Linked DNA regions of Homo sapiens: all the other regions are linked to region 3. The links come from fine-mapping of genetic effects on gene expression. A gene starts in region 3. Each other region holds a variant in brackets. All regions are shown on one strand. Distances are from middle to middle.

The links. PIP is the estimated chance that this variant, and not a neighbour inherited with it, causes the effect.
Region 1: its variant is fine-mapped to the expression of PSRC1 in whole blood (TOPMed, PIP 0.92).
Region 2: its variant is fine-mapped to the expression of PSRC1 in naive CD8 T cells (Schmiedel 2018, PIP 0.95).
Region 4: its variant is fine-mapped to the expression of PSRC1 in spinal cord (GTEx, PIP 0.98).

The regions. Positions count from the first base shown.
Region 1 is chr1:109,367,247-109,372,856 of GRCh38, reverse strand. It overlaps SORT1 (sortilin 1), which reads left to right. Exons shown (of 20, transcript NM_002959.7): 2 at 3,268-3,327; 3 at 5,376-5,449. Among named protein-coding and RNA genes, the nearest start is that of SORT1, 28 kb to the left of the region's middle. The variant T/C (reference allele first, on the strand shown) is at 3,428.
Region 2 is chr1:109,084,826-109,090,435 of GRCh38, reverse strand. No RefSeq gene overlaps it. Among named protein-coding and RNA genes, the nearest start is that of TMEM167B-DT, 2.9 kb to the right of the region's middle. RefSeq lists an enhancer at 1-38. The variant AG/G (reference allele first, on the strand shown) is at 3,261.
Region 3 is chr1:109,280,208-109,285,817 of GRCh38, reverse strand. It overlaps PSRC1 (proline and serine rich coiled-coil 1), which reads left to right and starts at 2,673. Exons shown (of 8, transcript NM_001032291.3): 1 at 2,673-2,755; 2 at 3,082-3,138; 3 at 3,243-3,300; 4 at 3,758-4,199; 5 at 4,567-4,681; 6 at 4,772-5,041; 7 at 5,329-5,422. The coding sequence starts at 3,120. RefSeq lists enhancers at 2,162-2,211, 1,579-2,304.
Region 4 is chr1:109,310,766-109,316,375 of GRCh38, reverse strand. It overlaps SORT1 (sortilin 1), which reads left to right. Exons shown (of 20, transcript NM_002959.7): 18 at 1,598-1,704; 19 at 1,992-2,115; 20 at 2,319-5,610. The coding sequence ends at 2,333. Among named protein-coding and RNA genes, the nearest start is that of MYBPHL, 6.6 kb to the right of the region's middle. The variant C/T (reference allele first, on the strand shown) is at 2,692.

The DNA of each region.
Region 1 (5,610 bases), 87 kb before region 3:
CGCGCTCTCGGCTCACTGCAAGCTCCGCCTCCCAGGTTCACGCCATTCTCCTGCCTCAGCCTCCGGAGTAGCTGGGACTACAGGTGCCCGCCACCACGCCCGGCTAATTTTTTGTATCTTTAGTAGAGACGGGGTTTCAGTCGAACTCCTGACCTCGTGATCCGCCTGTCTCGGCCTCCCAAAGTACTGGGGTTACAGGTGTGAGCCACCGCGCCCGGCCCATTCTGTGTTTTTGTTTTGTTTTGTTTTGTTTTTTATTAGCTGTTTCCGGTAGAAAGGTAAATGTGATCCCTGTCACTCCATCTTGACCAGAAGCAGAAGTCCACCCAGAAATGAACTTTTACATTTCATACTCATGTCTGTCATGGGGAAGTTAAGTGGGCCTGGCCTTATCCTTTTACTTGGGCGTCATCTTTTTCAAAACTTCATAAGTAGTTCTTAAAGAATTCAATATTTATTGCGTGCCCACTGTGCACTATGCTGTGTGTTAGCTGCTGAAATGTATGGGCTTGATTCCTTTACCAGATGGACCTCAGGTCTAGTGGGGAGGACAGGCAAGGTTCTTGTGGCTACAATTAAAAGTGCTGTAATACATATTTTGAAAGATCTAAGATGCCACTGCAGTGTAGAATGACATGTACGTTGTCTTAAATATTAGAAATGATTCTGGATTAGGATTGATGGCTTTGTGCTGACTTGTGAATTCTGTCTCCTAACCATGACCAGGTTGTCTGCCCTTTCCTGGACATCCGTATTTTTTTCTCCCATTGAAGTGGCAGGATTGAATCTGTACTCTTGGGTCCCTAGCTCTCCTGGATTTATCTCCTTTCCATATGACCTTTTCTTTCTGCTTAACCTTTGGGCCTGCTGTAACATCTCATTTCATTTTTCTTTTTTAACTTTCACCAGTATAAGAATGTTAGAGACTGAAATATTAAAAAATTAATTACATTTGCTATAGGTAGATGAGTTTTTCAGTGAGTTTGCCCATTTTCAAAAGCAAATCTTCATTGGTTATTTGGAGTGGGTGGGAGGGACAGCTTAAGGGCAGTAGAAAACCACAGTTTTGCTAGTAAATCTGGCCTACATTTCCAAAGGAACTCTTTGGATGATGAGTGAGGTCCATTACCATTTCAGTTGTTTCAGTGAAGCTGAGAGTTGCCGGTGACACGTGATAATCCTCCTCATTCTGTAGTTGAGCAATAGGAAAATGTGGGTAATGCCAGTCTGCATTGACTGGGTCGGCTGTGTAGAGCATTGCCTGAAAAGTAAAAGTTGCAGTCCTGATTGGCTCAAGACTGATATCTTACAGCCTGATGAAGACAACCACGAATTCCAGTGCCATAACTGATGGACTTTTTCTTTTCTCTTAGTTATGACAAGGACCTTCCTTGGAAAGATAACCTGTGTTTAGATGACTGTGATCTTAGCCCTTGTGATCTGCCTGGTGCTTGTGGTAGCTCTGGATGTTCCTGTTTTTCCTGAAGGACCTCATTGATGTCATTTCAGACACTATCCTCACTCAAGAGAATGTGAGGTTTTGCTATGTGTGAAATATCATATAAGACACACTGCTATGTCAGTTTTTAAGCCTCTGGTTTCAGAAGCTCTGGCAGCCCTACTTTTTCTCAGATGCCTGGCAAGCCTGCATGTCTGAATAGCCCTTCTTTCCTGCAGAGGCTGTGAGAAGCTCTGCCGAGCATTTGAGAGTTAACCATTATTTACGGAGCAAGACCTGCGTGAGGCACTGATTGTACTAACTTACAAAAATTGTGTAAGAGATTCTTTTGACATCAAAGGTACTTACGGTCCAGAGGGGAAATCACATACGTGAATTCGGAAGCCCATTCAAGACTGCAAGAGAAAATTCGAAGATAAACAAAACAGTTCATGTTTTGAGTTCTGTTTCTTTAGATTTCTATGTGGGATTGGTGGCTTGAGTGACCAAGTAGCTGGCATCCCAACCATTTATAGACATGTTCTATTTTGAGGTTGAGTTTGTGGTTTGGGGAGGATGTGTAATCATTTTCAACAAATGCTTACTGAGTGTGCAAAGTATTCCTGTGGAAGGCACAGGGAGTACCAAGAAGTATAAAGTTACATTCCCCAGCTTCCAAGGAGCTTCTCATATCTGGGAGGGCAAGGCATGTTTAAGATTTTAAAATCTTAGTAAGATTATAAGTCTTAAGAAAAAAGCATAATCATCCACATTTATTAGAAATATATACTGAACTATTAAACTGTCTAAGAAATGGGGCTTGGGTGGTGAGCATGTGGCCTGGAAAAGAGAAGGATCTTCACTCTTTGCTATATAGACTCTATATAGTATGTAATTTCTATATGGTTTGAAATTTTTGCCAAGTGCAGTTATTACCTCTTTGGAATTTTTATTTTTTTTATCAGTTACAAAAATTATAGAGAACAGACGATTGTATTAATACATATAATATTAACCTTGAATATCTCTATGTGGTAGGATTATGAGTGACTTATCTTTATTATGCGTTCTTATAATTGTCTACATCTTCTTTAATGAATATATATTATTGTATAAGTAGAGAAAGGAAGTATTTGAAAAACAAAACCCAAAACCACCTACAATGATTATTATAACTATATTTTAACATGCTTACTATATTTTGGATATAATATACCAGCTTTCCCTTTTTTACCTCCTTACTCTCACTGCAACTCTAGTAAGGTTGTTTTATTATTATCATTATTACTATTGTTATTAAATAAAAAGGTGAAACAAAGGCATTTGCTTCTTGCTTCTGCCCGTTGTCATTTTTGAGTGAGCTAGACTAGAAGTAAAAGGAATCCAGTTACGAACTTTTCAGCTATACTGTAAAGGATGCCCAGAAAAATTTAAATTATGTTGATTTGGTTACAATTACGCCTGCCAGTGTGGGCTATGATCTTTTGTTTTAAAGCATCCTAAAAATACTTTGCTATACCTTTATATTTAGTTCTGTTGGAGAAAGCAATTAGATTGTCCCATCTCCCATCTCCCCATCTGGTGCAGTAAAGAAAACTCATCTGCTTGGCTTACTTTGTGTTAGAGAGAATTTAAATTTCCAAGTTATTTGTGATTCACATTAAGTAGTTAAATCCCATCCCTCCCAAATTTTGTACTGGGAATCCATACCCACTTTGTAATTATGAACTTAATTACTCTGAACAGTAATAAAGTTCAGATATTTAAAGAAGCCAAAGATTGAAGGAGAGTGGCTGTCATTTCTAAATTAATTTTTTTTCCCCTTATAGCATGTGTTTGATGATCTCAGAGGCTCAGTATCCTTGTCCTGGGTTGGAGATAGCACTGGGGTAAGTCATATTTTGAGTCTGTTATTTCAGCCCAGCAAGAAGATGATAACAGATTTGGGGAAGGGTTAAGCACCTAATATCATTTCTTCCTGAAACTGTC[T/C]TTAGCCTCAATCACAGAAAACACATGTTTGCAAGACAGACTTTCAGGAAGTTGTAGTTGTGTTGGTTTTGCTTTAGAATTGGGAACATCTTTTTTGCGGGGGGGTGGGGACGGAGTTTCGCTCTTGTTGCCCAAGTTGGAGTGCGATGGCATGATCTCAGCTCACTGCAACCTCCACCTCCCGGGTTCAAGCGATTCTCCTGCCTCAGCCTCCCAAGGAGCTGGGATTACAGGCACCCACCACCATGCACAGCTGATTTTTTGTATTTTTAGTGAAGATGAGGTTTCACCATGTTGGCCAGGCTGGTCTTGAACGCCTGACCTCAGGTGATCCACGCGCCTCAGCCTCCCAAAAGTGCTGGGATTACAGGCATGAGCCACTGCGCCTGGCCGGGAACATCTTCTGACCACCTTCTTCCACGGTGGGAAGATGGACACCTTTTCAGTCCTTGGTGGCTGCTTAGCATCAAGATGAGCAAGAAGAAAGATGAAAGTGCTCTGTACTGAGAAGGGAAGCGCACAATGCTTGGGGAAACCCCTATATAGAAACAGAAAATGTCCATTAAAAACATCCTGGCACTTTTCCTCCAAATTGTATTGTTCCTGTGTCCTTTCCTACAGGTGTGTTGAGGGACTGTGGTGCCCATGGGCTCATGGTTGTTCATCTGTTGGTCCCTGCCCCTGCCACAAAGGAGGTACTGCCAGGATTGGGGGAATGGAAGGAGGATCAGTCAGCTCCTTATCCCTCCTGATATACAGCTGGGCTCCCACTAGGAGGACACGCTGAGGATACATTGGCCCCTGGTCTTAAATCAGGACTTGTTGCCTGGCTGTCTTATTATCCTGCTTGAACAAGAGCAGGGGCAACATCTCCTGCCCCCTGGTATTCCATAATGCATGTGTCATAGCATTGAGGCACATGATAGTTATATTAGAAGCCTAAAGAAATAAAATCTTGGTGCTGAAAAGCAAATTGTAAATTTCTTATTTTGATTAATTTTTAAACTTTCAGTAGAATTTCTTTAAGCATAGTTCAGTTTTTTCTAAAATTTGAGTTGTACCCTAATTTCCATGATTTACCCATTTATCTTAGATAGTTGGTATCTCCAAGAATTTTTTTTTTTTTTTTTTTTTTTGAGACAGAGTCTTGCTCTGTCACCCAGGCTGGAGAGCAGTGGTGCAATCTTGGCTCACAGCAACGTCCACCTCCCAGGTTCAAGCAATTCTCATGCCTCAGCCTCCCAAGAAGCTGGGACTACAGGCAAGCACCACCACGCCCGGCTAATTTTTGTATTTTAAGTAGAGATGGGGTTTCACCATGTTAGCCAGGCTAGTCTCGAACTTCTGACCTCAAGTGATCCGTCCGCCTCAGCCTCCCAAAGTGCTGTGATTACAGGCGTGAGCCACCGTGCCCAGCCATCTCCAAGATTTCTCATATGGCTTTCTGAGACTCCCTAGACTCTTATAGTAATCCATCCAGAATCATTTCCTCATGCATAGTTTTTGGTAGATAAGGTACTGAAAAAATGAATTTCATGAAGAACCAACGGCAAGGAGAAGAAAAAGACAGACATACATGACACAGTGATCTCTGTGAGAACACCCACGCTATTCTAGACTCTGTAAGGAGAAAAGGGAAGAGGGTTCTTGCCTGAGAGTATCTTACAATAATTTGGATACAAAATAGTTAAAGCCTTCTTTTATTTTAATGTGTATTTGAGTAGTCAGCCTCACTGCTTCAATGGAGGCAATGGGGATCATCCCAACAAAATGAGCTGAGGACTTTCTCATCATTCTCAGCCCTAGTAACTAGATCCTTCTAGACTTTGGGGAGTACTACAAAGTAGGGATATCAAAAGTCTTTTAGGTGTTGGCTTAATCTCGAACACATATCAGCATGTGATTGGAATATCTTTTTTATTTACGGAATGCTTTTTTCTCTCTCCAGGTCATTCTAGTCTTGACTACCTTCCATGTACCACTGGTAATTATGACTTTTGGACAGTCCAAGCTATATCGAAGGTGAGATCAATAACACGCGTTGGAGCATTTCACTAAGTAACATTGAGAATATAGATTCTCCCTTTTCTAGACATGATGGCACGTAACAGTTGATGTAAAAGATCTTCTAGCCATCCTAAGTTTTCACCAGACTGTCACACTCAGCACATGTTTTTGTTGTT
Region 2 (5,610 bases), 200 kb after region 3:
ACCGCGGGTGAAGAAGCCGCACCTGCGGCCTCCGTGACTGCCCTTGAGCTGCTCTTCCTTACTCCGGATGGAAATCTAGTCAGACTGCGTCTGAACGTTGCAAATGAAATGAGGAACCTTGTAACAAAAACAAGTCGCGGCCGGGCGCGGTGGTTCACGCCTGTAATCCCAGCACTTTGGGAGGCCGAGCCAGGCGGATCACCTGAGGTCGGAGTTCGAGACCAGCCTGACCAACAAGGAGAAACCCCGTCTCTACTAAACATACAAAATTAGCCGGGCGCGGTGGCTCATGCCTGTAATCTAAGCACTTTAGGAGGCCGAGGCAGGCGGATCACCTGAGATCGTAGTTCGAGACCAGCCTGACCAACATGGAGAAACCCCGTCTCTACTACAAATACAAAATTAGCCGGGCATGGTGGCTCATGCCTGTAATGTAATCCCAGCTACTCGGGAGGCCGAGGCAGGAGAATCGCTTGAACCTGGGAGGCGGAGGTTGCGGTGAGCCGAGATCGCGCCATTGCACTCCAGCCTGGGCAACAAGAGCGGAAACTCCGTCTCAAAAACAACAACAACAACAACAACAACAACAAAAACCAAGTCGCATCTTTCAGATCCTAAAGCACCACGTCGTCGGAAAACATTCAAAGGGTTGCCCGTTTGCTTGTGTGAATTTTTCTTTTCCTTAAACTATCAGGAGAATCTCGATTCTCCTGCATTTAATTAATGCTGGGATCACTTCAGCCACTTTAACCAGAAATCGGCGATATCTAGACACCGCTTCTCTGAGGACACTTTGACAACGTGACAAAAGACATTGCCAGTCTAATGATGGGGGTGGGGTGGAGGAGACAAAAGTACAGATTCAGATTTGCATACTGAAATCCTTAATTGCACACAACTCGGCCCGCTTTATTAGAGTTCGGGCGGAAGTGCGACACCGAGTCCTCCAAGGCTAACTGGAGGGTTAAATTATACGGTTACTAATCCGCCGTGCTTGTCAAGGGCCTAAAGGGACTCTGCCCCTTTCTGCTGCAGTGCCATCTGCTGGCTGCAGCCTGCTTGGTTACCCAGAGGGAAAACTGCCAAAGCATCCTCTGGAAGCTGGCCTGGAAAGACAAGCCAAAGTCTAGTGCAGGACAGATGCCTTGAGAAAATATACATACATGCAGAAAGAAAAAAAAAAAAAGACGGCGTATATACGGGACAAAACCTAGGACAAGGCCAGGCAGCCACTCAGATTATATATATGTTTGCACATTCACACACAGACAAATTCCCCTGCCCAAAAGAACTGTTCAGGACCACTCAAAAACAAAACAGAACAAAAGCTCTATTGTTTAGGCCTTCGAATCCTTCATCAACCATTGTCTAAAACAGCAGCAGCTGGCCGGGCGCGGCTCACGCCTGTAATCCCAGCACTTTGGGAGGCCGAGGCAGGCGGATTACCTGAGGTCAGGAGTTCAAGACCACCCTGACCACATGGTGAAACCCCGTCTCTACTTAAAAAAAAAAAAAGAAAAAAGAAAAAAAGAAATACAGAAATTAGCCTGGCATGGTGGCGTGCGCCTGTAATCCCAGCTACTCGGAAGGCAGAGGCAGGAGAATAGCTTGAACCCGGGAGGGAGAGGTTGCAGTGAGCCGAGACAGCACCACTGCCCTCCAGCCTGGGCGACAGAGCGAGACTCCATTTCAAATAATAATAATAATAATAATAACTGCCCCCCTTTGGCCGGGCGCGGTTGCTCACGCCTGTAATTCCAGCACTTTGGGAGGCCGAGGTGGGCGGATCACCTGAGGTCGGGAGTTCGAGACCAGCCTGACCAACATGGAGAAACCCCGTCTCTACTAAAAATACAAAAGTAGCCGGGCATGGTGGCACATGCCTGTAATCCCAGCTACTTGGGAGGCTGAGGCAGGAGAATCGCTTGAACTGGGGAGGCAGAGGTTGCGGTGAGCTGAGATCCTGCCATAGCACGCTAGCCTGGGCAACAGTGAAACTACGTCTCAAAAAAAACAAAGAAAAGAAAAAAAATTGCCCCTCTTGTAATCCTACAGCCATCACCTTAGTAATTTTGCTATATCGGTAGTCTTTAAGTATCAATTATGTCCTCACAACAATGAAAACTTACATTTTTATAACATTTTGACATTTTCAAAGCAAACACACCTTGTCATATGATCTTATTTAACCCTCACAACTGCCTGATTACCCCTGTTTTAGAAATAAACCAAGGTTTAGGGTAAGGACTGCCAAGTATTACACTGGCACAATAATTCCAGCCTTCTGAAATCAGGACTAGAAAATTTTCCTCCATACCACACTGGTGTTTCCTTTGACAGCAACCACTACCTACTGAATAATGCCTAAGTCCTTAGCCTGCTACTCAAGGCCTTCCAATAGTATTTTCCACTGTTCCCTATATGGGCTTTAAGCTTTGTCTATAAAGACTATGTTCTTCAGTTACAGTCTTTGCTTTCTCATTTTTGCTCATGCCACTCACTTTTTAGAGATAATTTTTTCTCCCCATTTTTTTTTAACTAGATGAAAACCTCTTCAGTTTTTGTCATACTCTGAAAGACAAGTCTTTCCTCTTCTGTCATTCTCAGAGGTTAGAATAAAAGTTAATCAGCTGGGCGCAGGGGCTCACGCCTGTAATCTCAACACTTTGGGAGGCCGAGGCGGGAGGATCACCTGAGGTCGGGAGTTCGAGACCAGCCTGGCCAGCATGGTGAAACCCCGTGTCTACTAAAAATTCAAAAAAATTAGCCGGGAGTGGTGGCAGGTGCCTGTAATCCCAGCTACTCAGGAAGCTGAGGCGAAAGAATCACTTGAACCTGGGAGACGGATATTGCAGTGAGCCGAGATTGTGCCATTGCACTCCAGCCTGGGCAACAGAGTGAGACTCCACCACAAAAAAAAAAAAAAAAAAAAAAAAAAAAAAAAGTTAAGCCCGGGCGCAATGACTCACGCCTGTAATCCCAGCACTTTGGGAGGCCAAGGTGGGCAGATCACCTGAGGTCAGGAGTTCAAGACCAGCCTGGCCAACATGGTGAAACCTTGTCTAAAAACACAAAACTAAAAACACAAAAATTAGCCGGGCATGGGGGCGTGAGCCTCCAATCCCAGCTACTCAGGTGGCTAAGGCAGGAGGGAGAATCGCTTCAGACTGGGAGGCGAAGGTTGCAGTGAGCCGAGATTGTGCCACTGTACTCCAGCCTGGACAACAGAGTGAGACTCCCTCTCAAAAAAAAAAAAAAAA[AG/G]AATAAAATGTAAAGGCTGGGCATGGTGGCTCACACCTGTAATCCCAGCACTTTGGGAGACCGAGACAGGTGGATCACTTGGGGTCAGGAGTTGGAGACCAGCCTGGCAACATCGTGAAACCCTGTCTTTACTAAAAATACAACAATTAGCTGGGTGTGGTGGTGTCTGTCTGTAATCCCAGCTACTCGGGATGCTGAGGCAGGATAATCACTTGAACCGGGGAGGCAGAGGTTGCATTAAGCTGAGATCACGCCACTGCACTCCAGCCTGGGAGACAGAGCAAGACTGTGTCTCATAAACAGAAAAAAAAAATTAAGGATGAAATCAAAGCTGAAAAACCAGGAGGAGTGATGAATTGGCAAATTACAATTTTTTTTTTTTGAGACAAAGTCTCACTCTGTTGCCCAAGCTGGAGTGCAGTGGTGCAATCACTGCTCACTGCAACCTCTGCTTCCTGGGTTCAAGCAATTCTTCTGCCTCTCCTCCGGAGTAGCTGGAACTACAGGCATGCGCCATCGTGTCCGGCTAAGTTTTGTATTTTTAGTAGAGATGGGGTTTCACTACGTTGGCCAGGCTGGTCTTGAACTCCTGACCTCGTGATCCGCCCGCCTCGGCCTTCCAAAGTGCTGGGATTACAGGCGTGAGCCACCACACCCAGTGGCAAATTCCAATTTTTATTTTATTTTATTTTAGCTTTGAGACAGAGTCTCGCTCTGTCGCCCAGGCTGGAGTACAGTGGCGCCATCTCGGCCCACTGCAAGCTCCGCCTCCCAGGTTCCCGCCATTCTCCTGCCTCAGCCTCCGAAGTAGCTGGGACTACAGGCGCCCGCCACCACGCCCGGCTAATTTTTTGTATTTTTAGTAGAGACGGGGTTTCACCGTGTTGACCAGGATGGTCTTGATCTCCTGACCTCATGATCCACCTGCCTCGGGCTCCAAAGTGCTGGGATTACAGGCATGAGCCACCGTGCCCGGCCTCAAATTACTATTTCTAAAGGGCAGTGATAATGCACACAGTATCTTATGATTAAACAGTTTTCTTTTAACTCCACTCAAAATTTACTTTTTCTTCATTTTCCACGTCTGTCTCTATTCTTCCTACTTTTTTTCTCCCACTCTTAAATTTATTTCTTCTTTCTCCCTCCACCATATTTTTTCTTTTTCATATTGTAAAAGATATTTTACATTTTTTTAATTGAATAGAGTGAGTCTCACCAGGCTATTTCAAAATTAGTTGTATCAAGACTTTTATATTCTAAAATCAAAAAGTTGACCAGGTGCGGTGGCTCATGCCTGTAATCCCAGCACTTTGGGAGGCCGAGGCAGGCAGATCACGTCAAGAGATTGAGATCATCCTGGCCAACATGGTGAAACCCCGTCTCTACTAAAAATACAAAAATTAACTGGGCGTGGTGGCACGCACCTGTAGTCCCAGCTACTCGGGAGGCTGAGGCAGGGGAATCGCTTGAACACGGGAGGAGGAGGTTGCAGTGAGTTGAGGTCGCGCCACTGCACTCCAGCCTGGTGACAGAGTGAGACCCCGTCTCAAAAAAAAAAAAAGTTCAGTTTTCTGTGAAATTAAGTTAGTTCCTTTCTAAGGTTGTTGGAGGATTAAGTGAATTACTATTTACAACAATATCTGACATGAGTAAGTATTCCATAAATGATAGCTATTATTGTTGTTCATTTTGAGGGAAGAGAGAGACCCTCTCATATTGTTCTATACTCAGAAAAGGAAAGAGAAGAGAAACTAAAGGCAGGTAGCCCAGTGCCTAGGAACCACACCTGAAACCAGGCCTAGGCCTGCCTGACCTAAGCCTGGTAGTTAAAATTCGACCCGTGACTTAGCAACTGATGTTATCTATAGATTCCATATATTGTATGGAAAGACATTGTGAAACCTCCAGTTCTGTTCTGTTTCGCTCTGACCACTGGTGCTTGCAGCCCCTGTCATGTACCCCCTAGCTTGCTCAATCGATCATGACCCTCTCATGTGGATCCCCTTAGAGTTGTGAGCCCTTAAAAGCACAAGTTGAGCACCTGAAGAGCTCGGCTCTTGAGACAGGAGGCTTGCCGATGCTCCCAGCCGAACAAACCCCTTCCTTCTTTAACTCGGTGTCTGAGGAGTTTTGTCTGAGGCTCCTCCTGCTACAATTTGTTTTAAAAGTATCTGTGGTTGGCCTGGTGGCTCACGCCTGTAGCCCCAGCACTTTGGGCACTGAGGTGGGCGGATCGCTTGAGCTCAAGAGTTCAAGACTGGCCTGCACAATATAGTGAAAGTCTGTCTCTACAAAAAATAAAAAAATTACCCAGGCATGGTGATGCATGCCTGTGGTCCCAGCTACACG
Region 3 (5,610 bases):
GTTAAATCTGGAATGCCCTTGTCAGAGAGAAGGGGTCCATTCAGTTGGTTGGGGGGCTTAGAATTTTATTTTTGGTTTCCAGCTTCTTGGTCTCTGGTGGCATTTATTACAGTGACATCTCACTCCTGCAGACCTCACCACCTCAACGTCACAGCCAAAAACTAGAAAGTAAACAAGAAAGCCTATAAATGGCCAAAAAAATGGGCATGAACTCTGAGGACTAAAGCTCAGGTTCTGTTTACCAGAAAGCTCCTCAACCATTCCCTTAGGGCTTTTTCACTTTAAATATTCAGAACCTTTCTAGGAGCTCAGTTTATTACTGGAAAGGGGTCTTGATCCATCCAGACCCCAAGTGAGGATTCTTTGATCTTTCAAAAGAAAGAATTCAGGACGGGTCCACAGAGTAAAGTGAAAGTGAATTTATTAAGAAAGTAAAGGAATAAAAGAATGGCTACTCCATAGAGCAGCCCCAAGGGCTGCTGGTAAGCTATTTTTATGGTTATTTCTTGATTATATGCTAAACAAGGGGTGGATTATTCATAGGTTTTCTGGGAAAGGAGCATGATTTCCTGGAACTGAAGGCTCCTCTCCCTTTTATACCATATAGACGTTGCCATAGCATTTGTAAACTGTCAGGACGCTGGCAGGAGTGTCTTTTAGCATGCTAATGAATTACAACTAGCATATAATAAGCAGTGAGGATGACCAGCTGTCACTTTCTTTTTTTTTTTTTTTGAGACGGAGTCTCACTCTGTCGCCCAGGCTGGAGTGCGGAGGTGCGATCTCGGCTCACTGCAAGCTCTGCCTCCCAAGTTCACGCCATTCTCCTGCCTCAGCCTCCCGAGTAGTTGGGGCTACAGGGGCCCGCCACCACGCCCGGCTAATTTTTTGTATTTTTAGTACAGACGGGGTTTCACCGTGTTAGCCAGGATGGTCTGGATCTCCTGACCTCGTGATTCGCCCGCCTCGGCCTCCCAAAGTGCTGGGACTACAGGCGTGAGCCACCGCGCCTGGCCTACTTTCTTTACCATCTTGGTTTCTGGCAGATTTGGCCGGCTTCTTTACTGCACCGTTTTATTAGAGGGATGTTTGAGATCTGTATCTTGTGCGGACCTGCTGTCTCCTCCTGTTGTTACCAGAAAGGGGTCCGGATCCAGACCCCAAGAGAGGGTTCTTGGCCCTTGCATAGGAAATAATTCAGGGCAAGTCCATAAAGTGAAAGCAAGTTTATTAAGAAAGAAAAGGGATAAAGAATGCCTACTCCAGAGGCAGAGCAGCCCGGAGGGCTGCTGGTTGGCCATTTTTATGGTTATTTCTTGATTATATGCTAAACAAGGGATGAATTATTCATGAGTTTTCCGGGAAAGGGGTAGGCAACTCCCTGGAACTAAGAATTCCTCCCCTTTTTAGACCATGTAGGGTAATTTCCTGATGTTGCCATGGTATTTGTAAACCGTGGTGATGCTGTCTGGAGTGTCTTTTAGCATGCTAATACATTATAATTAGCGTATAATGAGGACTGAGGACCTCCAGAGGTCAGTTTCATCGCCATCTTGGTTTCGGTAGGTTTTGGCTGGCTTCTTTACCGCATGCTGTTTTACCACCAGGGTCTTTGTGACCTGTATCTTGTGCCAACCTCCTATCTCATCCTGTGACTTAGAATGCCTAACCTCCTAGGAATACAGCCCAGGTCTCAACCTTATTTTACCCAGCCTCTATTCCAGATGGAGTCGTTCTGGTTTGAAGCCTCTGACAAGTTCACTGGTGGCCCGGGCAACATTTAGAAACAACAGAGACAACACTCCTAACAAGTTGGTTTAAGCATTTTACAAATACTGCTTTTAGTTCAGAGGGGGCTACTTACAAACACCCCCTCTAAATCCCCTAAGGGCACACGGTAGAAAACGCCTTCATAATTATCCTCGTAACACCGTAACTGCGAGGACCAACATCCTCCTTTCACAGATAAGCGAAGAGAGGTGAAAAGAGGGCAAATATACTCAAGGCAGCCGCCTCTAAACCGAAACTTGGGTTCTGAGGTCAGTTAAACTTGGGTTGCATTTGAACCTAAGCCTGCCTGCGTGAAAAGCCCGTTGCTTTCTTTGCACCTCAGCTGCCTCAGGTTCTTGAAGAGGCGATGGAGGATGTACTTCTAAGAGAACCTCAATATACCTACAATATAAGTGTTTAGGTGCTCCCTTAACTTGGAAAAAACCCACAACTGAGGAACCTCGGCCAATGCGGCGCCTGCATATTGAGTGCGCCCAAGAAAACGAATTTCCTCCCGTAGAGCGTCGGTTAGCGGCCACGTTAGGCAGCACAACCGTTCTGGAGACTGGGTGCTCGGCGGCCCAGCAGAGGGAGCGGGGCGGGGCGCGAGTTCCATACTCGTGGGTCCGTTTCTTCCCTCCTGGCCAGCCGCGCTCTGCTCCCATCTGCCTACGGGAAAGAGAGTCTCCGCGCACGCGAGCACGCGCACTCGCAGCCTCAACCCTCGGCTCCGCCACCGGGATGCAGTCTTCTGGGAACGGTTCTCCCCCAGCCCCCACCGGCTGACTTCCGGCCGGCAGCTCCTCAGCCCCTCCCCCTGAGGATTCACCAATCACGGTGCGCGTGTGGCTTGAGTAGGTGGGGCCTGAGAGATTCGAAAGGAGCCCCGCCCCCTCGGAGCTGATTCCCGGGACTAGGTTGCGGGAGAAAGCCTGTTGCGTGGAAGATAAGGCGGCGCGGGAAGTGGACACAGGGTGGGCTGGAGGTGTGCTTCGCGTGTGATGCCAGGGGAGTGGAAAGGTGGCTTGGGGAGTGCAGAACCCTGAGGATAGTGGCGGGGAGGAAGATGGGGCGTGCAGGCCGCCCCCAGTGAGGAGAGGCCAGGATGCAGGGCGGCTCCAGGGCAATCTGGGCAGTTGGGGGAGCCCTCCGTATCGTTCCCGGAGGTAGCAGGAGTAGCTGTGCGGGAGGTGCCACTCCTGGGCGCTTGCTTTGCCTCCAGCATGACCCCCGACCCTGGCTTGCACCCTGAATCTAGCTGCGAGCCTTGGGCAGAATGGATACCTGAGGAAAGGTATGGTTTCTCTCCAGCTCAGATCTAACTGGACTCTCGCTCCTGCTGGCTGGACATGGAGGATTTGGAGGAAGGTAAGGAAAGGAGGGAGGGAAGAATGAAAGGGAGGAGTGAGACCCAGCGATGGAGAGCTGCATCAGGGACCCATGACTGGCTTTCATTCTTCTTTCCCCTTCAGATGTAAGGTTTATTGTGGATGAGACCTTGGACTTTGGGGGGCTGTCACCATCTGACAGGTACCAGCCTCTTTATCCCACTTATTTTCCTCTAACAGTACCTCTTTGTCTCGAATCCCTTACTGCTGAATTATTGGCTTGGGTTGGTAACTTAGCAAGGTTTGGCGCACTTGGGGCTGCTGGGCGGCTGGCTGACTCGGGCCTCTATGACACTATTGGTAGCGGGGAGAGAAGGGAGAAGCTGGAGTTAGATTTCAGGGTGTTAAGAAGAAGGATAAGTGGATTTGCTGCATCTCCATCCTGGCATCATTTCTGATGTCCGTAAATGCTAAAGGCCTATTAGGCCCCATAGAACCAGGTATCTCATCGCCCAGAGGCCACATCTCACAGCCAGCATGGGCATCGGGGCCTAGGGTCATGTCCCTGGCTCTGTTGTGGGGCTTTTATGCAGTCTCCCTTGCATAATCTCCTGTTCCCTTTTGCATGGGCATGATGCCTGGTTTGTTTCCTGTCTCAGCCGTGAGGAGGAAGACATAACAGTGTTGGTGACTCCAGAGAAACCACTTCGACGGGGCCTCTCCCACCGAAGTGACCCAAATGCAGTGGCACCTGCCCCCCAGGGTGTGAGGCTCAGCCTAGGCCCCCTCAGTCCAGAGAAGCTGGAGGAGATCCTCGATGAGGCCAACCGGCTGGCCGCTCAGCTGGAGCAGTGTGCCCTGCAGGATCGGGAGAGCGCAGGCGAGGGCCTGGGGCCTCGCCGAGTGAAGCCCAGTCCTCGGCGGGAGACCTTTGTGCTGAAGGATAGTCCTGTCCGAGACCTGCTGCCCACTGTGAACTCTTTGACGCGGAGCACCCCCTCCCCAAGCAGCCTGACGCCTCGACTCCGGAGTAATGATAGGAAGGGGTCAGTCAGGGCTCTCCGGGCTACATCTGGAAAGAGGCCCTCCAACATGAAGAGGGTGAGTTGAGAGAGTTGAGTTGGAGGTGTGCCCCAGACATGGTGTGTGCCATGATGCAGGGAGTGGTTTCCTTATTGGTAAAACAGGGATAGCATTTCTACATCTAGAATTGTTGGAATTAAATGAGAACCATGAAAAAAGAGAACCAAAACTCTTACCACAGTGTCTGAGTATATGTCTATGATAAACTCAATAAATGGTATTGGCAATAGTGATGGTGATGGTGATGTGGTGATGTTAGCAGCTAACTTCTACCCTTCCTTACTGGGATGTAGACAACTCTCCACCTCTATTTCTTAATTCCTTAAGCCACAGAACAGATATTTTTTCCACTCTAGTCTTTTTTCTCTCTCTCTTTGTGTTTCAGGAGTCACCCACTTGCAATCTGTTCCCTGCATCCAAAAGCCCAGCATCTTCTCCTCTTACCCGATCGACTCCCCCAGTCCGGGGGAGAGCCGGGCCCAGTGGGAGAGCAGCAGCCAGTGAGGAGACCAGAGCAGCCAAGTTGCGGGTGAGTGGGAGTGGGGAGTTTGTGGGATTGACCCTGAAATTTCTCCACCCCTCTCCACCAGGCCCACCCACCCCCATCAGATCCGTCCTGGCCCCACAGCCTTCTACCAGCAACTCTCAACGCCTGCCCCGGCCGCAGGGAGCAGCTGCTAAATCTTCCAGTCAACTGCCCATTCCCTCGGCCATCCCCAGGCCTGCCAGCCGAATGCCACTCACCAGCCGGAGTGTGCCACCTGGCAGAGGTGCCCTACCTCCGGATTCTCTGTCAACTCGAAAAGGGCTTCCAAGACCAAGCACTGCAGGACACAGAGTGCGGGAAAGTGGACACAAGGGTAAGAGGTCAGGAGGAAGAATGCCCGCCCTTGCCCAGCGTGTCCTCACCCTCCCAGAGCTGTCAACAGTGACCACTTTTGCCATCCTTATTGCAATTCAATTGGAAGATGGGGAGACTGAGTTACAGAGAGGATATGGGGCTGGACAGAGTCTGAGTCTTAGTTTTCAAATACCTCATGGTCAGGGGGAGAGTACTAATCCCACACTCGCTCCCTTCATCCAGTATTTCTTTTCGAGGTCAGTTAAACTTGCTGCTAACTCATTTCTTTTGTTAACCCCCATGAAGTTCCTGTTTCCCAGCGACTAAATCTTCCTGTCATGGGTGCCACTCGCAGCAATCTGCAGCCCCCCAGGAAAGTGGCAGTCCCAGGACCTACCAGGTCAGTCTGGTCCTCCCTTGCCCATCCTGTCTCCCTACCCCGCCATCATCTGGGATTCCAAGCTGTTATGCACATCAGCCCTGAATTTTGTATGGAAAGATGGAGAGAGGAGGGGAGCCTGGGGCAGGGGAAGGGGGATCCCATTTCTTCCCACCCTGAGGAGCTTGAATTCTGCTGGGTGACAAATG
Region 4 (5,610 bases), 31 kb before region 3:
TGTGGTGGTTTACGCCTGTAGTCCCAGTTACTCGGGAGGCTGAGGTAGGAGAATCATGTGAACCTGGGAGGTGGAGGTTGCAGTGAGCCGAGATCGTGCTGCTACACTCCAACCTGGGCAACAGAGCAAGACTCCGTACCAAAAAAAAAAGGTTGTCTGTGAAGGGCCATGACCTGGAATTGTGCATGTGTGGAAGAGAAGAGCACTGGGCAATAGGTAGGGTGGATCTCTGACCAAGTCATGTTAAGTATGTTCAAAGTGAAAAATTGAGCTATGGTAATGGGCTGGTTTTGATTTAAATGAAGCAAGTTACCTGTCGGGCATGGTGGCTTACTCCTGTATAGTCCCAGCACTTTGGGAGGCTGAGGTGGGGAGATCAGTTGAGGCTATGAATTGGAGAGCAGCCTGGGCAACATGGAGAAACTCCATCTTTACAAAAAAAATACAAAAATTAGCCGGATGTGGTGGTGTGTGCCTGTAGTCCCAGCTACTCAGGAGGCTGAAGGGAGAGAATCACCTGAGCCTGGGAGGTCAAGGCTGCAGTGAGCCATGATCATATCACTGCACTCCAGCCTGGGTGACAGAGTGAGATCCTGTCTCAATTTAAAAAAAAAAAAAAAAAAAAAAGGTTATGAGGCTGCATCCAAATCTGTAGCACTGAACTACCTGTGGAACTGGAGATGTGTAAAGAGGAAACCTCTTGATAATGAAACACTAGACCAGCAGCATGACTTCAGATGCTCAACAGCAGGCCCGTTTCCCAATTCGTAATAGGAGAGGTCAAGCTGGATCACCTGCAGTCCCTCCTCTCTGCTGTTCTAAGGGATGAGGGACTGACAAGGGGTGGGATTAAGGAGATGATGGGAGAGGAGTGTGTGAGTGTGTGTATTGGTAAGGGGGCGAGTTCCTCCTTCTGTGCACCCTTGTCCTGGGCTCCTGGTGACTCTCCTCAGAGTGTTCGTGTGTGTGATTGCACAGGACTCCCACCCACAGGGACACAGCTTGTCCTAGAATCCAGCTCTGCCTCCTCTGGGATACATTGAAAACACACACTCCCTATTTCCCACCCAGAAGCAGGTAGGTCACATGCAAACAGTGATATGATAAGGCTTATTTATAATAATATATAAAAAATTAAGTAAACAAATAAATCTTGGTGTCATATAATGGCCTGCCTGGTTCTTCTGACACAGCTTCTTCCCAGATAATGGCCCTGTTCTAGAGTCATTCAGCCTACTGTTACAGTAGTCTCCCTTTCCTACTCCACCCTTAAGCCCCAAGACTTGTGAACAGTGGTAGTGTGAAGCAATCATACTTGATCTAGGCAGTTGCCCAGGCTTCCAGTGTAACTTTGACATTTAAACCACAGAATTTGAAGGTTCAAGGCAGTTGGAGCTAAGATGACTCTCTGCCAGCTATAATATTCTCCTGGTAACACTGAGATGGTTCATCTTGGGGGGTTGGAAAAGAGCCATCATTAAGCGCATCAGGACTGCAGATCATTCACAAAGAGATGAGGGGAATGAGTGGCTGCCTTGACCTCAGTCCTAGGATATGCATGCCTAAAACTTTTGTGTTTGTGTTTTAATTTCTCAAGAATTCCAAGTCAAATTCTGTTCCAATTATCCTGGCCATCGTGGGATTGATGCTGGTCACAGTCGTAGCAGGAGTGCTCATTGTGAAGAAATATGTCTGTGGGGGAAGGTAAGGAACACAGAAGTCAATCCAAGGTACTGAGTTCAAGCCAGAAGGCTGATCTAGGGCATATGGCTGAGTCTACTCTTGGCAAAAACTAGGTACTTGCAGTACTGTTCCTGAAAAATCAGGCCCAAATCTTCTCATGTCGTACATTTTTCATATGTCAACCATGGACTGTGCTTTCTGTGTCTGTGATGCGTTCCTGAGTGTATAAAACTGAGAAAGTCCACAGTCCTGTAAGAAGTGCACCCCTGCTGTGTACCACCGAGTGTTAAGGAGGTTTCTGTTCACAGGTTCCTGGTGCATCGATACTCTGTGCTGCAGCAGCATGCAGAGGCCAATGGTGTGGATGGTGTGGATGCTTTGGACACAGCCTCCCACACTAATAAAAGTGGTTATCATGATGACTCAGATGAGGTGAGGCTATTTCTTCTTGAATGGTAGTACCCCCCCCCCCAAAAAATACAAGAAAATAAAGTCTGTCTTCTATTCATGATCAAGATATGCCAGGGCCAAGGCGACTTAATGACCATAAGATTTGGCAAGCCCAGAAACTAGGTGATTGCTTTTGAAATAGGAGTGTTGTGGTCTGTCGGTAATATGGTGCATGTCTTTTTCAGGACCTCTTGGAATAGCTCTTCAGAGGAGCTGGACCCAGCATGGATGGTGGAACCACAGTACCTCTTACACTCCCTGTGGCTCCAACTTCAGGAAATAAATTTCCCATTGCGAGGGACCCAGCTCTGTTTCTGCTGCTTCCATCAAAGCCAAAAGGACCTACACTAAAGAAATGCAGGGTGGGGGTGGGGAACCCTGAGCACTTTTTTACAATTGGCTCTGAGAAAAAGGGAGACATTTTAAATTCTTTAACTTCTTATTTCTCGTCCTGTCTCTTTGCAAAGTATGGGCTTTTTTGTTTTTGTTTTTTAAGGGAAACGAAATGGAATTCGAAGGGACCTTTTCACTAACCCCACTTCTGTGTGTTCTGCATGG[C/T]GCCTGCCCCAGGGCATCTGCCAACTCCAGTATCAGCTCTCACAGTGTACTTGGTACCATCCCTGGGCTCTGCTGGCGAGACGAAACAGCTGTAGAGATGAAAACAGGCTGCAGAGGCTGGCACAGCCTGGCCGGCTTTTCTCCATCTGGGGACAGTCCTACTCCAAGAACACTGCACACCAGCTCCTCACACAGATCCCACTTACTCTTTTTTTTTTTTTCAGAGACCACAGACCACAGTGATTTTTCTTTTCCCTTGTTTAATTAGGCAATACCCTTGTTAATTGCCCTTTGGCAACTAACTTAACCATGTGCTTCCCACACAGTACATCAGGAAAACTTACAGGGCAATATTTTTAACTTGGGGCAGGAAGAAGGGAGCAGCAGAGAATTGACTAGATATAGCACCTATTAAAAGAGAACTCTTGCTTCTTCTGAGATTTTTCAAGCTGTGCTTTGTGTGTGTGCCAGTAGACTTACGCAAGGACAGGGTACAAACTTAGCTGGAAGTCTGCCCAGGCTGAATGATCTCTTCCCTAGAGTTGATTGTCGGGTACACAGTGTGAACCCCCGAAGACGGAACCTCACAGTCTTCCATGTTCCCTTCTTAACTGTCGTGTGGCTCGTTGCTAAATCATGACAATGGCTGCCTATCTGCTGCTTCTTAGGTTGCTGTTGTACATGGAACCAGGACTAGAGATTTTTTCAGATTTATAGACTTAAAAAATTAGAATTTTATTACCAGGCTTTCCTTCTCACCCCTTTTTTCTGACTTTGCCAAGTAATTTGTTGACACGAAAATTTTGGAGGAACCAATTGAAAACACACTTCCAGTCTAGATGATGCTTTGTGTGATACATTAAGTTCTTATTTTGGATTAAAAGAAGTTTTCCATTTGATACCTCTCTAAATTAAATAAATTATAGAATGTAGTTGGGTGGATTTTGGGGTGGCCATATAGTAATGGAAAGCTGCAATAATTAGTTTTAATACAGCTTGAATATTTGCTATATAGAAATATAGTATGGAAAGTTTTTGGTCTTAATGTAGCTACTGTGCGGGTCACAGTTTCTCCCAATGATTATGACTGGGACATTCTTTGGTAGATACCATTTGCTACTAGTTTATTTTGTGGCTAGAAAGTCAGTTTTGTGTGTTTTTTTTTTTTTTTATTTGAAGTGCCAAATTAACTTTAGTCAGAATGTGAGCAGATGGCTAAGTTCTCTCCTCCCCAGAATGGATTAACAGCTGCGTGGAAAGTGGGGGAGAGAGTGGATGGAGACTTTTAGAGATGTTAAAACTGCAGTAGAATGAAATGAGTCAGGGAGCTTCAGTTAGAAAATAAAGTTGAGGCAGTTTTTGTGAAGATAATATGGTTAGGGCTGGAGTGCACTAGTCTTTTTGCTTATTCATTTTGCATGGTTTTAAAATTAAAAATAATTCCGAAGATACACCAGCTCACAAATGAAAACGTCAGCCTCTGCCCCACCCTCCCTCCTGCCCAAAGTGAATTTGGTACTCAGAAAAGAACTGTTTATACCACTCACCTTTCTCCCAGCATGTACTCACTGTGGGCAGATGCACCAATACATGGTAATCCTCTTACTCATTTTAAGACGTAGGAAACTCAATATTCTTCTCTAACCATATACGATAGGGCTCTTCGCTTTTAATGATATCTGGGATTTCTGTGGAACTTGGCAAATTTTCAGAGCACCTTCACTCACATAATGTCATTTGAACCTCACAATGTTCTTGGGATGGAGTCAGTTGTTCAGGGTCCCCGTGTGTGTGATAAGCAGTGCTGGCTGGCTGTCTTCAGAACTCTTGGAAATCTTTACACATGCGAGTGCTAACCACTTTGAGCAAGGCTGCCTTCTTGTAGATGACTTGCTGTTCTTTATGACAGGGATCAGTGGCATTTGTTTCCTAGCAGTATTTAGCACCTTTTTGCCACCTTGGTGAACAGAAAATTGTATTTTCCTGTCTTTCATGGCTGAAAACAAAAGTAATGGGAATTTTAAATACGTTTGCAGAAACTGCCCCTCCCCTCATTGAGGGTCACTGCTCAAGAGTGCAGGAGTGGACTCTCCACTGATGGGTCTCCCTCCCCATCCTGGTTTCCACCCCGGGCTGGCTAGCTCTGTTGGTTTGAAGACTGACAGCCAGCCTGGCTCATTCTCATTATTGGCTAGTTAGCTTTCTTTATCAACCTGCTCACTCACAAATGTGTGCCCTCAGCCAGAGAGTAAGAAAGCCCAAATCTGTTACAGCTTCTAAAAAAATAGATTTCTAATTTGTCCTACTCATGTTAGGAGCATTATCTTTGAAGGTAAAACATAGTGTATCATTGTGTAAACTCCCAGGCTTGATGTAGCAGAAGAGATCATTTCTGGAGGCTTCAGCAATGGAATTTAGCATTATAAGAGAGATTGGACAAACCAGTCCAAAGTGGTCCGAGTTCTTAAATCCAGGTAGGGAACTCACTCTTCTTTCTTCTCTGGACCTAATTGGGCATTGGGCTTTAGTGAGACCACAGACCAGGCCCGTCTCTCCTGTAGGCTTTTAATTCAATGGCAACTCTATTTCAAAGAATAAAAGCCTTTGGAGAGTTGCGGCAGTTCTGGGGGCGGGCTCAGGAGAGTCCATAGATCAGCCGTAACTGGAACGTAGAATCTACGTCTGCCTCTGAATGGACTTCCCACCTCCTCTCTCTTGCTCTGATGCTTGCCTCTGGGCCTCTCCATGCCCAAGGTGGTCTTTCATCCTTGACAGGCTGGTAATGTGCTGGCCACCTCCAGCTCCTGCATCGAGTCTGTAAACCAGAGCTGGTTCTCATGGCCTTCGTCACGATACCAGGATACGGAGGGGAGCCCAGGGCCATCCATACCCACCCCAGGGTAACGGGGCTGGCCTGGC